2 linked regions of the Homo sapiens genome follow. The protein of the gene in region 2 interacts with the protein of the main gene of each other region in a pairwise test. Each region holds a gene or a part of one and is shown on either strand. Other genes may lie near its edges.

Region 1 (7,310 bases), on a different chromosome or scaffold from region 2:
TCCTAGCCCTTCTGTGTCCTCCCGCAATTCAATTTCTCCATGCTTCACTGCCTTTTTCTACGAAGTCTACTAAAAGCTCCCACTTTGTCACTGGCTTTCTAGAATTACCAAGTAAAATAACATATGCAAAACGACTTTTAAAATTCTAAATAGAATATAAATAGATGATAGACATTATTACTTGCATTAGTTAACTCAAACCCAACTATCACCCTAAAGCCTTAAAATACATTTATAAGAAGCAAAATAAAGAGGCAAGAGAAATAGCAATATAAAAGCCTGAGACTCTTTTGCCATAATCTAGACAAGACTCAATAGATGACCAATAGTGACCATGATGATACGTGCAAACGGAAAGAAAGGAATAAATGCTGCTTGAGTATGGCAATTGATTGGATGTATGGAATAAGTGGTATGGAATACATGATATGGATGATATCATGTCCCTTAATAATATGACTTCAGGAGTAGAGATGTAATCGAAATTGGAAGGAAGGCAAAAATAACCCTTGGGAGAGGCCATGGATTTAATGTGGGACATAATCAGTTTAACCTGCTGATGGGATATCATAGAGGAAGTATCAAGTGACAATTAGAAATAAGGAACAATTTTGACAGAGACACCAAGGCTAAAGATAGAAATTTAAGGACCGTATTTGAGGAATGAAATTGAAATTATAAGAACGTCAAAAGAGAGACCAAAAAGAAGATGGTTTAGAGCCGTGGCATCCATTAGAAATATAATATGAGCCACACACATGTAGTTTAAAAATTTCCTGTAGCCACATTGGAAAAGTTAAATGAGATAAGTGAAATTAATTTTAATAATTTTATTTAACCCAATACTTCGAAATATAATCAATGGAGCATGATTAAATGCCAAAATATTAATTATTTTACATTTTCGTTATTTGTACTATGTCTTCAAAATCTGGTGTTTATTTTACACTTAATTCATACTAGCCCTTCTTCAAGTGCTCAATAGTCACTTGTGCTAGTTGCTACCGTATTGGATAGGTGGATCTAAGAAGGAATTTTTGAGAATTAAGAGCCAGGGGGAGACATAGAATCCAGAGGAGACCAGAAAAAGAGAAAGAGGAAAGACACCTGCAGTATGGCAAAAACCAAGGCAAAAGAACGTTTTCTTCCTCACAAGTTTTACAACACTTCTGCATAGGCAATATTTGCAGAGAAGAAACAACAGGTTTCCTACAGATGGCATTGCTTTAGACATCAAACAAAGTAGGATTCTTTTAGAGCCTTTTAGACTCTAGGGCCTCATGAATAAAGTTCAGCATTGCTTAACTGCTAACACTTAACAGGCTTCAAAATTATCGCATGGCATACTGAAAATAACATGGACTTTGCATTACCCAGATCTATGTACAACTCATGACCCAGCCTACCGAGAAGCTTTGTAAATTTGCATATTTAATCTCTTAACCTTAGCTTCCTTATCTTTAAAATGGGGATACAAATTCCTTTACATGATTTTTGTGGATACCAAATGCAATTATGCATGCAAAATTCTTGTCCCATAATCTACACAGAGTAAGTCATAGCTATGATGATAATTATTAAGAATCTCACTCTAATAATTTATATTGATGAATTTCTCAAGCAACTGTAAACATCTTGAGAATAAGTTAATATTGTCTAGTTTTGGTAACAACTATAGTACTTACCACAGTGCTTGAGACACCACTGAGGTAATCACCATACATTTTTTCCTTTAATGTTCTACTTTAGGAGAACCATCAAAGTATGAATAGGTGATATTATACAGAAGCTCAGATTACTTGATTTCCCCAGTGCATTTAGCAGAGAGCTGAATTTGGGTTCCATTGCTCAGTTTCTAGTCTTTAAAATTCTAACATGAAATTAACTAAAGCAGAAAGATAAATGAACAGAAACGGAAGTTTCCCTTGACTCAGCATCCAATTTCCTGAGCATTCTACCTTCCATAGCTCTTTTAAAGAGATGTTCTGTTTTGACTCTTTTAGGAAATGGATTTAAAGTGAACATAAAATTAGTCAATTTTAATACCATGGTTTTAGTAAAATTGCTTAAAATTTAAATACTTAGAGGTAGTTGCTCTTTCTCATCAGTTTATGGCAATATGTTTTCAGCTGGTGGGTTATTTGTTCCATTTTTCAGAAGCATATAATGGATACAGAATTCAAACCCAACCTTTCATCACTGCCAACTTACTAAAACTGTACCATATATATAGTACATATAGTGTCTTTTATTTGAAATATATTTCTAGCTTCTCTTCTCCTAAATTACCCTATATTTTAGACCAGGAAAATTCACACATCTCCAGATTGTCTTCCTTGATTCTACAGCCCAAAGTCAATCTTTATGGCATTTATCCTTTCACTAAACAAATATTTATTGATATTATCATACACCTACCATTTGTTCTAGGTTCTAGGTATTTAGCAGTAAAAAGACAGGCGAGGTCAATACTCCCATGGACCACACATTCTAAGGTGAAAATAGCCACTAAACACTGAAAAATAAATAATAAATTCCATAGCCAAACTAATATGAAGGAAAACAAAAGCAGAGTAATGAGATAACGAGGTCCTTGCAAATCATGAAAGGAGATTGAATCTAATTTGAAGTATAATAGTCATTTGGAATATTATATTAAAAGAGTTTGCATGGTTGAACTCTTAAAATGGCCACTCTGTCTACTCCTTGGACAATGACTATTGTGGGGAAGATAGAAGCAGGGAGGAGAGTCAGGAGAATTCTGCAATAACAGCAGTGGAAGTGGAAAGAAGTGATTGAATTCAAGATATTCTGATGTACCTATACCTCTTGCTTAATATCTAATTCATTCCCGTGAAATACAAAGTTATTCAATAAGAGCCTAAGATTTCCAATCATCACTTATAAGTATAAAAGTATATCAATAGAACCTCAAAAAAGGATTCAAGTACATAATAGCAACAATTTGAAAGAAGACAAATTGTAAACAAAATGTAATATAAAAGGAGTTTTTATTTATTACATTTTCTCTTTCCATATCTTTTTCTTCAGTAATATTTTTAAGGATTGGGAGACTTAACGGTTTTCATGCCCTCAAAGTATACTTAATAACAAATTACAGCACAGGAGTCACCTGGAGCCGGGGGCCCAACAAAAAGTCTGACTAAAAGGTTGTAAACATTGCCACCTCTTCAACCTTCTTGAATTAATTCAAACATGTACAAATCAACATTGTTTCATATGCTTCTTGTTATTCTAACTTGAAAGCAGAGAGTAAATTGGTGTGTGTGTTTTATCTAAAGTTTGATGTTCATCCAAGTGTCATGTTGTGCTGTATTCACTTGGCAAGATTTTTTTAGAAAAGTCATTGTATTGACAACCAAAAAAATAAAAAATAAAAGAAGTATTAGACTGAAAAAAAAAAGATATAACACCTTAAGGGCCATTATTGAGAAAAGTCACGTGAACAGTATAATGAAAAGTAAGTTTATATTTTACAGGCTCTACTTATTGCTGATAAACTAGATGAAACTTTGGGTAGGAAGTAGTAGGGAAAGAGTAGAATCAAGGATAATTCTTAGACTCTTGTCCTGAAAAGAGAGATTAATATGGTGTCATTAACTAAGGTGGAGGCAAAAAGGAAAGAAGCAGGCTGGGTTGGGGGACAGGTGGGCAGTAATTAGGAGATTTGCTTTGAGTACTGTATACTCACTTTGATGTCTCTATGAGACACTCAAGTGGAGATGATGAATGGGCAATTGGATTTATAGTTTTACTGCTAAGAGAAAAGATTTGGTCTTGAAATATAATTAGTATATAGATAACATTTAAGGTCATGAAACTAAATAAAACCGCAAAGGAATAAACCTAGAAGACAAGTAGAAATCCAAAGACTGATCTCAGGACATTCCAACATTTAGAGAGCTAGATGATGAGAAAGTGTTAGCAAAGGATACAGAAAGAGCATTCAGGTAGTTTGGAGGAAAACTGGAAGAAAAAAGTATTCCAGAAGTCAAATGAAAAGAGAGTTTCAAGAGGGAAGGAGGGTTCGATAGCATCAAATGCAGCTCAGACAGTGAATAATATAAAGATACATAAATGGCTATTAGATTTGGCAAAATGAAGACCTTTGGGATTCTGTCAATGGTATATTCTATAATATTTCTATGGCACTGGACTTATATGTATAATTGATATTTAGATACTTATCTTTGTGTACCTCTTACCTACTAAACAGTTTTCATTGGCTAAGTAGCATATCTATTTCTTTGTATCTCCAGCAATCCTTAGGACAACATAGTATACTTAGAGTTCAAAATTATTTATGGAGTTGAATGGAATTGGACTAATAACCAGCAAAAGATAAAAAATAAGTTGCAAAATCCACAATTGTATTGTGTGTTACTGACAAGGATAAGTTTTAAAATAAGATATTCTGTCTAGTTTTTGACATGCAGAAAATGCTTTCATCAGATGAACTTTCCCACCATTTAGGCAAAGATAGAAACTATGAAGCATGTATTCCCTCAAATTCCTCTCCTCACTGAATCTTACTTATATCCAATTCATCTGCATTCACGCTCATTAAAGTGCTCTCTCTTCTGTTTAAGGTTAATTCATCTACTTGAGCCAGTGATTATACCCATCTGTCTTAGTCTCCTCTGAGACCTTGTTGGGTTCCTTTATTTTCATTCCTTTTCTCCTCCTTCACTTGAACATTCATATTTTATCCCCCTTTTAAGCTACTGTCTATTTCAAGCTTTAGAAAAGGAATACAGCATTTAGGCTGGGCGCGCTCTCACGCCTGTAATCCCAGCACTTTGGGAGGTCAAGGTGGGCAGATCACGAGGTCAGGAGATCGACACCATCCTGGCTAACACCGTGAAACCCCGACTCTACTAAAAATACAAAAAAAAATTAGCTGGGCTTGGTGGCAGGCACCTGTAGTCCCAGCTACTCAGGAGGCTGAGGCAGGAGACTGGCATGAACCCGGGAGGCCGAGCTTGCAGTGAGCCGAGATTGCACCACTGCACTCCAGCTTGGGTGACAGAGTGAGACTCCGTCTCAAAAAAAAAAAAAAAAAAAAGAAAAGGAATACAGCATTTCATATATGCTATCTCTAGTTCTTTGCTTCCTTTGACATCTCACTCCAAGGCTTGAGTGTCACTAAAGTCACTAATGTTTTGGTCTTTAGTTATACAGCTGAGAAAGAATACATTTTCTTACAAGGAAAGCAAATCGACCTTTAATCTTTTAAAAAGAAGATCAATTTTAACCATAATAGCAGAAATATCAATAAAACTGTGTTGAGATGCAGTTGTTAGAGACTGGCAAAACCTGCAAAGCTTGGCAACACAATCCCTTGAAAAAGCAATGAAGCTTCTGCAAGCATTCTCATTAAGTGCTGGTGGAAGTTCAAAAAGTTACAAATAACATGAAGGATAGTTTGGCAACAACTATCAAAATTATTTTATCCTTTGTCTCATAAATGTTATTTCTGGAAATGTGTGATAGATAGATAGGTAGATAGATAGATGATAGATAGATAGATGATAGATAGATAGGTAGATAGATAGATAGATAGATAGATAGATAGATAGATAGATAGATAGATTTTCAAATAGAAACAATTACATGGACATTCATTGAATTAGAAAAACTTGAAAACATCCATCACTCTTTTTACAGGAGGCTGGTTAAATTAAGTATGATATTTCCATATAGTGGAATAGTATACAGCTGTAAAAAAGAGAATTAGTTCCTTAGTTTTGTTATAAAATATCTCTAATCTATATTTCTAAAAGAAAAAAAGCAAAGTGGAGAGGTGCGTGCAGTTATGTTATATACATACACACATAGATGTGCATATATATATGGTTTTTACATAAACTGTGAAGTATAAATATATATATTAAACATGAAAAGTGGTTACGTTGGATTAAGATGGGGATAAATGGGATAGATAGAAATAAAAATATAAGAAATAGCTTATCTAAAAACATTGTGTTTTGGTTTTATATTGATTTTGAACCATCTCACTATATCATCTATTCTTAAATTAAAAGCAAACAAAACAAACAAAAGGCCTTCATCAAATGAAAAAAAAGATTGTTATAACCATAACTTGAATAAGAACCTCAGGCACCTGAACAGGTAAGTCAGTGCCTGTCCTTACAGAAATATCTCCACTGACTTCAAACTCTTCTGCAAAGAAAATGTCACTTCACAGTGAGATAAATGGAAGAAACAAATACATCCTGACCCTAGACAGACAACCCATCAAGATGTAAAAGTGTGGACATCCAATTACGTATCTCCCCTGCTCAAAAACCCTGCTGTTACTTATATCCAGGTCTACTCTATTTATGATCTCACACTATCTTTCTGGCCTACCTCTTATTACTATACTTCTGTCTAACAAAACTGGAGAATTCACACTACTTTGGAATTCTCTGACACGCCGTGTTTTTGTGCCTTGACATATTTCCTTCCTGTCCCTTGCAATGTTTCTCATCTTCCCAGTGCTAGATTTCCCTGAAAACTACCACAAAACTTTCCTCCAAAACTGTCCAGAACTCCCTGAAAGTATGTGATCAGATGATACAACACTTACAAAATTCTCTAGTTTATGGCTCGGCAAATAACAGGAATGCAAAAATGCTGGATGAATTTCTGAACTCTAATAGAGCATTCTCTGTATCTTCTTATGGTACTTGACAAATTGTATTTGCATCATAATTATTAAAATAATAGTCACTCTGGATTATAAGCTTTTAGAAGGCAAATGTTGTGAGGAGTTGTCAAACATACAGTAGCTGTTGAAAAATATTTTAAAATTTAGTTTAATTCAAACTCATGTTTCAATCAGATCCGCCTTTCAATTAAAACTGTATTTTTGTACAATTATGGAATTTGAAGAAGTTGGGAAATAATGACTGTTTAAAATGTGACCATACGTGACTCCGTAGTAGAATTTTGAGGCTTTTGTCCTTTCTTCTGGGGAAAGCATTTTAATTTCTACATCAGGAGACCCCTCTTTTTAGCAGAGAGCCCAAGTGCTGCAGCTGTAGCTGCCCCCAGTGCAGGAGTGGGCCTGTGAGCTAGGCATGGTCACGCATGCTGTCTGCACCCAAGTTCAGTAATTGTTCAGCTATGGTCATGTGATCCAATTCAGTCCCATCAGATCTAAATCTGACACTTTGCTGTGGTGACTGGGGAAAAGCATTCTTTCCCCACAGTTTGCTGAAAGGATCAACTCAGTAGGAGCTTGACAATTTCGTGAGAGCTTCCACTAGAGACTGCTTACAGCA
Region 2 (3,400 bases):
TTTGCACAATCTTAAAAGCAGGCTGACTCAGAATTGACCACCATCTGCTGTTCCTGACTTGGAATCACCATGAGATTTGTGCAGCCAAACAACCAGCGATCTGATCTGCCTGTCCAATTAGTTAAATAAACTGAAAGGGCTTTGCTGACAAAGTAGTGATAAATGCTCCAATGATAATTATAGAACAGTGTTTTCACATCGCATCCATTGGACATGTTTAATTCTGCGCCAGGCATCACCCATGTAATTTACAAGATGCAGAGAATTAAAGAGTGATGAGGGGGCCATGGATGAGTGGACTCAGCTGCCATGGACACTGGGCGCAGTGCAGCCCAGCCCTCTGTATTCCATGTCCCCAAGGGCAGCACGCTGAGGGGCAGGGTACACATTTGCTGAGGTAATGAAGGAAGGCAGAGCCCAGCGCCCCCTGTCGCCTCCAGCAGGTGCAGGTGCAGAAACTCAGCCACAAGGTACCTTCTTTTTAGCAACTCTTTGAAAGGGGAGATGGATAAATGTAATGACCTTGAAAGCAAGTTCTGCCAGGTATTTCGAGTTGTCGTGAAATATATTAAAACAAGTTCACAATCAATGTGTTTAAGAGTTTATTAGGATAGGCACATAACAGAAAGCTCAAAGGACAACAAAGCTGCACCTTCCTAAAGGCTGACCCTCAAAGCACCATTTTGTTAGAACTCAGAGGAGAAGCTCGATCTCTGAGCCTTCCCTCCTCACAGTTTGGGAAACATGCACAGGATGAAGGTAAATCCTGCATAGAAATCTTGTAATTCCAGAATTAGTCAAACAAATTTGAAATACACACATTTAAAAATACTTACATTCTCATTTAGCATTCATGAAGTGATTACTGACATTTACAATTACATCTGACATCACAGAGCAAGCCTTTGCAGGGATCTAATTCAAGCTTAAGCCAAATCTATGCAAAGAACTTCAGCTCAGAGGAATAGTGGGCAAAATCTGCTGAAAAGAACTGCTTGCCACCTTGCAGATAAGAGCAACAGCACAATAAAGGGATTCCAGAGCTTCTACCTAAAATAGAAGGGCATTATCTACAAGAACAGACCAAAACACAATTTATTTTTAAACAAGCCCTTCAGTGAGTATTTGTCTCAGGAATCTAGTATGAAAATAGTGTCTTTGATTAGTGAATATATGGAGAATTCGGATTATCATCTCTATTTTTAGTTGAGAAAATGCACAAACCATATAGATTTAAACCATGGGTTTTGCAGCCGAAGTAGAGACAGATGTTTTCTGGGATCATATCTCAGATTCCCAAGCTAAAGCTATTGTTCAAGGTGATGGAAATATGTAGGGGGCATTAAACCATTTTGCAGCTGCTAGAAAGCTGTGTTTTCCTGTTTTCCTGATTTAGACAATGGAGAAGCTAAGAAGAGAAATAATAGGAAAGGCTTTCCTATGTTAGTTTTAAAAAGACTGTGTTATTTTTAATTCAATTTTTTTTTGTCAAATCTCATCTCTGTTCTCCTAGTTTTCACAGAAATATTTACAGGAATAAAGGTTGAAACAAAAGTACCTAATGATCATCTCCATCCATCGAAAGATTGCTCAGGGATAAGACACTCAAACAAGGGCTTGTGATGAGGATGGAAAAGACAAAGCAACTTGAAGAGAAAAAAAAATTCTTTTAAACTCAGTTCATCCTGCAAAATGGACATAACACATGCATATAAAGGTTTGACTTTTTAATTCCACTTTTTTGCCTGATCGCAGGGAAGATGGCATGTGGCTGGCCCTTCCTGAAGCCTTGCTCCTCCACCACTGGCTAACAGACAGGCCTCCAGGTGGCCTTGCAAGGCCGACAGTGACCGCAGCCCACTTCCCCACATCCTTAATCAGAGCCTCATGCAGTTCATCCCCACATTACCCAAACATAACGTCGTAGTGCTACACGTAGATGTGTTGCATCATGATGCTATGGCAATGACGATGACGCTTAGGTGTGTGGGCCACCGAAGGCAGAGACCAGATGTGGTTGGTCTTGCCTGGAAGCCAAGCTGTTGAGCAGGGGTGGAGTCCCTCTACAGAGGATGCTCACCAAGTTCTAATGCATTGTCGATAACTGTCCTGCCCTGGTTTTTCTGCATTCCTCAGATTATCTGTGGGAATTGTCCTCCTGCATCCTTTCTCAAATGACAAAGAAGAAAGAAAGAGCAGTGATGGCACCTGAAATTCAGGAATGAGTAGGCATGGCGAGCTGGGTGTGTGAGATGTTCTCTCTTTACATTGTCTGCTTTGAGATGTGGGATGAGGGGAGGGAGAGAGTTGGTCCTGAATATATTCAGTTTTTTCCAAGAGTCTCCCAGAATTATTGACCTATTTGGACAACAAATCTTCATTGTCTTGGTGTCCATCTCCAAGTGAAAACTTCCCCCGTCCCCATGGCCCTGGCTTGTTCTGCTGCTGAACAGGTCACCTGGGCAGAAACACTGTGTCTAGCGAGAAGTTAGCAGGTGGCAGGGTGCACCTCTCCCCATACTGTGACCCTTGGATTCCCCACTGTGCCACGCCCGAGCAAGCTGGGGCCCCTCAGGACAAGGACGATTTGTTAATGGCCTCTTGGCCGGTGGGCATTTGTTTACCCACTACTGTAGCCCCAAGATCCCCCAAACAAGAATTTCCATGCTTCAAAGTAACAGCAAAAATAAACAGGAGAATAAAGCACGTGTTTGAGCCCAGTGGTTTCCATCAGATGCACAACCTGAGCTGTCTGGTTGGGTTGCTGGCTCTCCCCCCGTGGTGGGAGTGGTGTGCAAGAGAAAGCACCACCCAGCAGGAGAGGGACCCAGCCTGCCAGGGAAGGTTTTGAGGAACTGGATTCTTTATCACCCATTTCTCCCCTTGTGGGTTCCACAGAGGGGTTCCATGACCTCCCTGTTGTTGAGAACAGGGCTGCATTCAGAGAACAGACGATGGGCCTGGGCTGTGAGAGCAATCAGAACACTGTGAAAATAGGAGGGCTCGTTGGATCCCAGGAATCATACACAGACTGCGTTGGGGCTGTGGGAAGCCAAGGACAGAAATGTCTCCTTCACCCCAAATGATAAGGGCAAGGATTTTCAAGGCCCAGAGGGAGAAATGTTGCATTTGCATTTATTTAAGTGCTGATGTTGGTCAGCAGCGCATCCAGCCATGTCTTTAGAATCCTCTGAATGGCCAGACAGATGGCTGCTCTCCACACCACAGACTGCCCAGCTTCACACATCACCTAGAGTCTCGTGGCCAAGGAAGTTTTGCCAAATGGACACAGCCTTTGTCTCCCTTAAGTGTTAAACACCAGAGTTCCAACTGAAAACTGGAGACCATGAGATGACTTTAAAAAGAAGTTCCAAATGCCCCATCGAGCCGCACAAAACCT

What was found.
Region 1: the proteins of CD93 (region 2) and ARHGAP15 interact in a two-hybrid assay, tested with the Homo sapiens proteins (one study listed by BioGRID).

What each region holds. Positions count from the first base shown.
Region 1 is NC_000002.12:143,132,409-143,139,718, reverse strand, and holds part of ARHGAP15 (rho GTPase-activating protein 15), read right to left. Parts: intron 1-7,310. UniProt on the Homo sapiens protein: GTPase activator for the Rho-type GTPases by converting them to an inactive GDP-bound state. Has activity toward RAC1. Overexpression results in an increase in actin stress fibers and cell contraction.
Region 2 is NC_000020.11:23,078,771-23,082,170, forward strand, and holds the end of CD93 (complement component C1q receptor precursor), read right to left. Parts: 3' UTR 590-3,400; downstream 1-589. UniProt on the Homo sapiens protein: Cell surface receptor that plays a role in various physiological processes including inflammation, phagocytosis, and cell adhesion.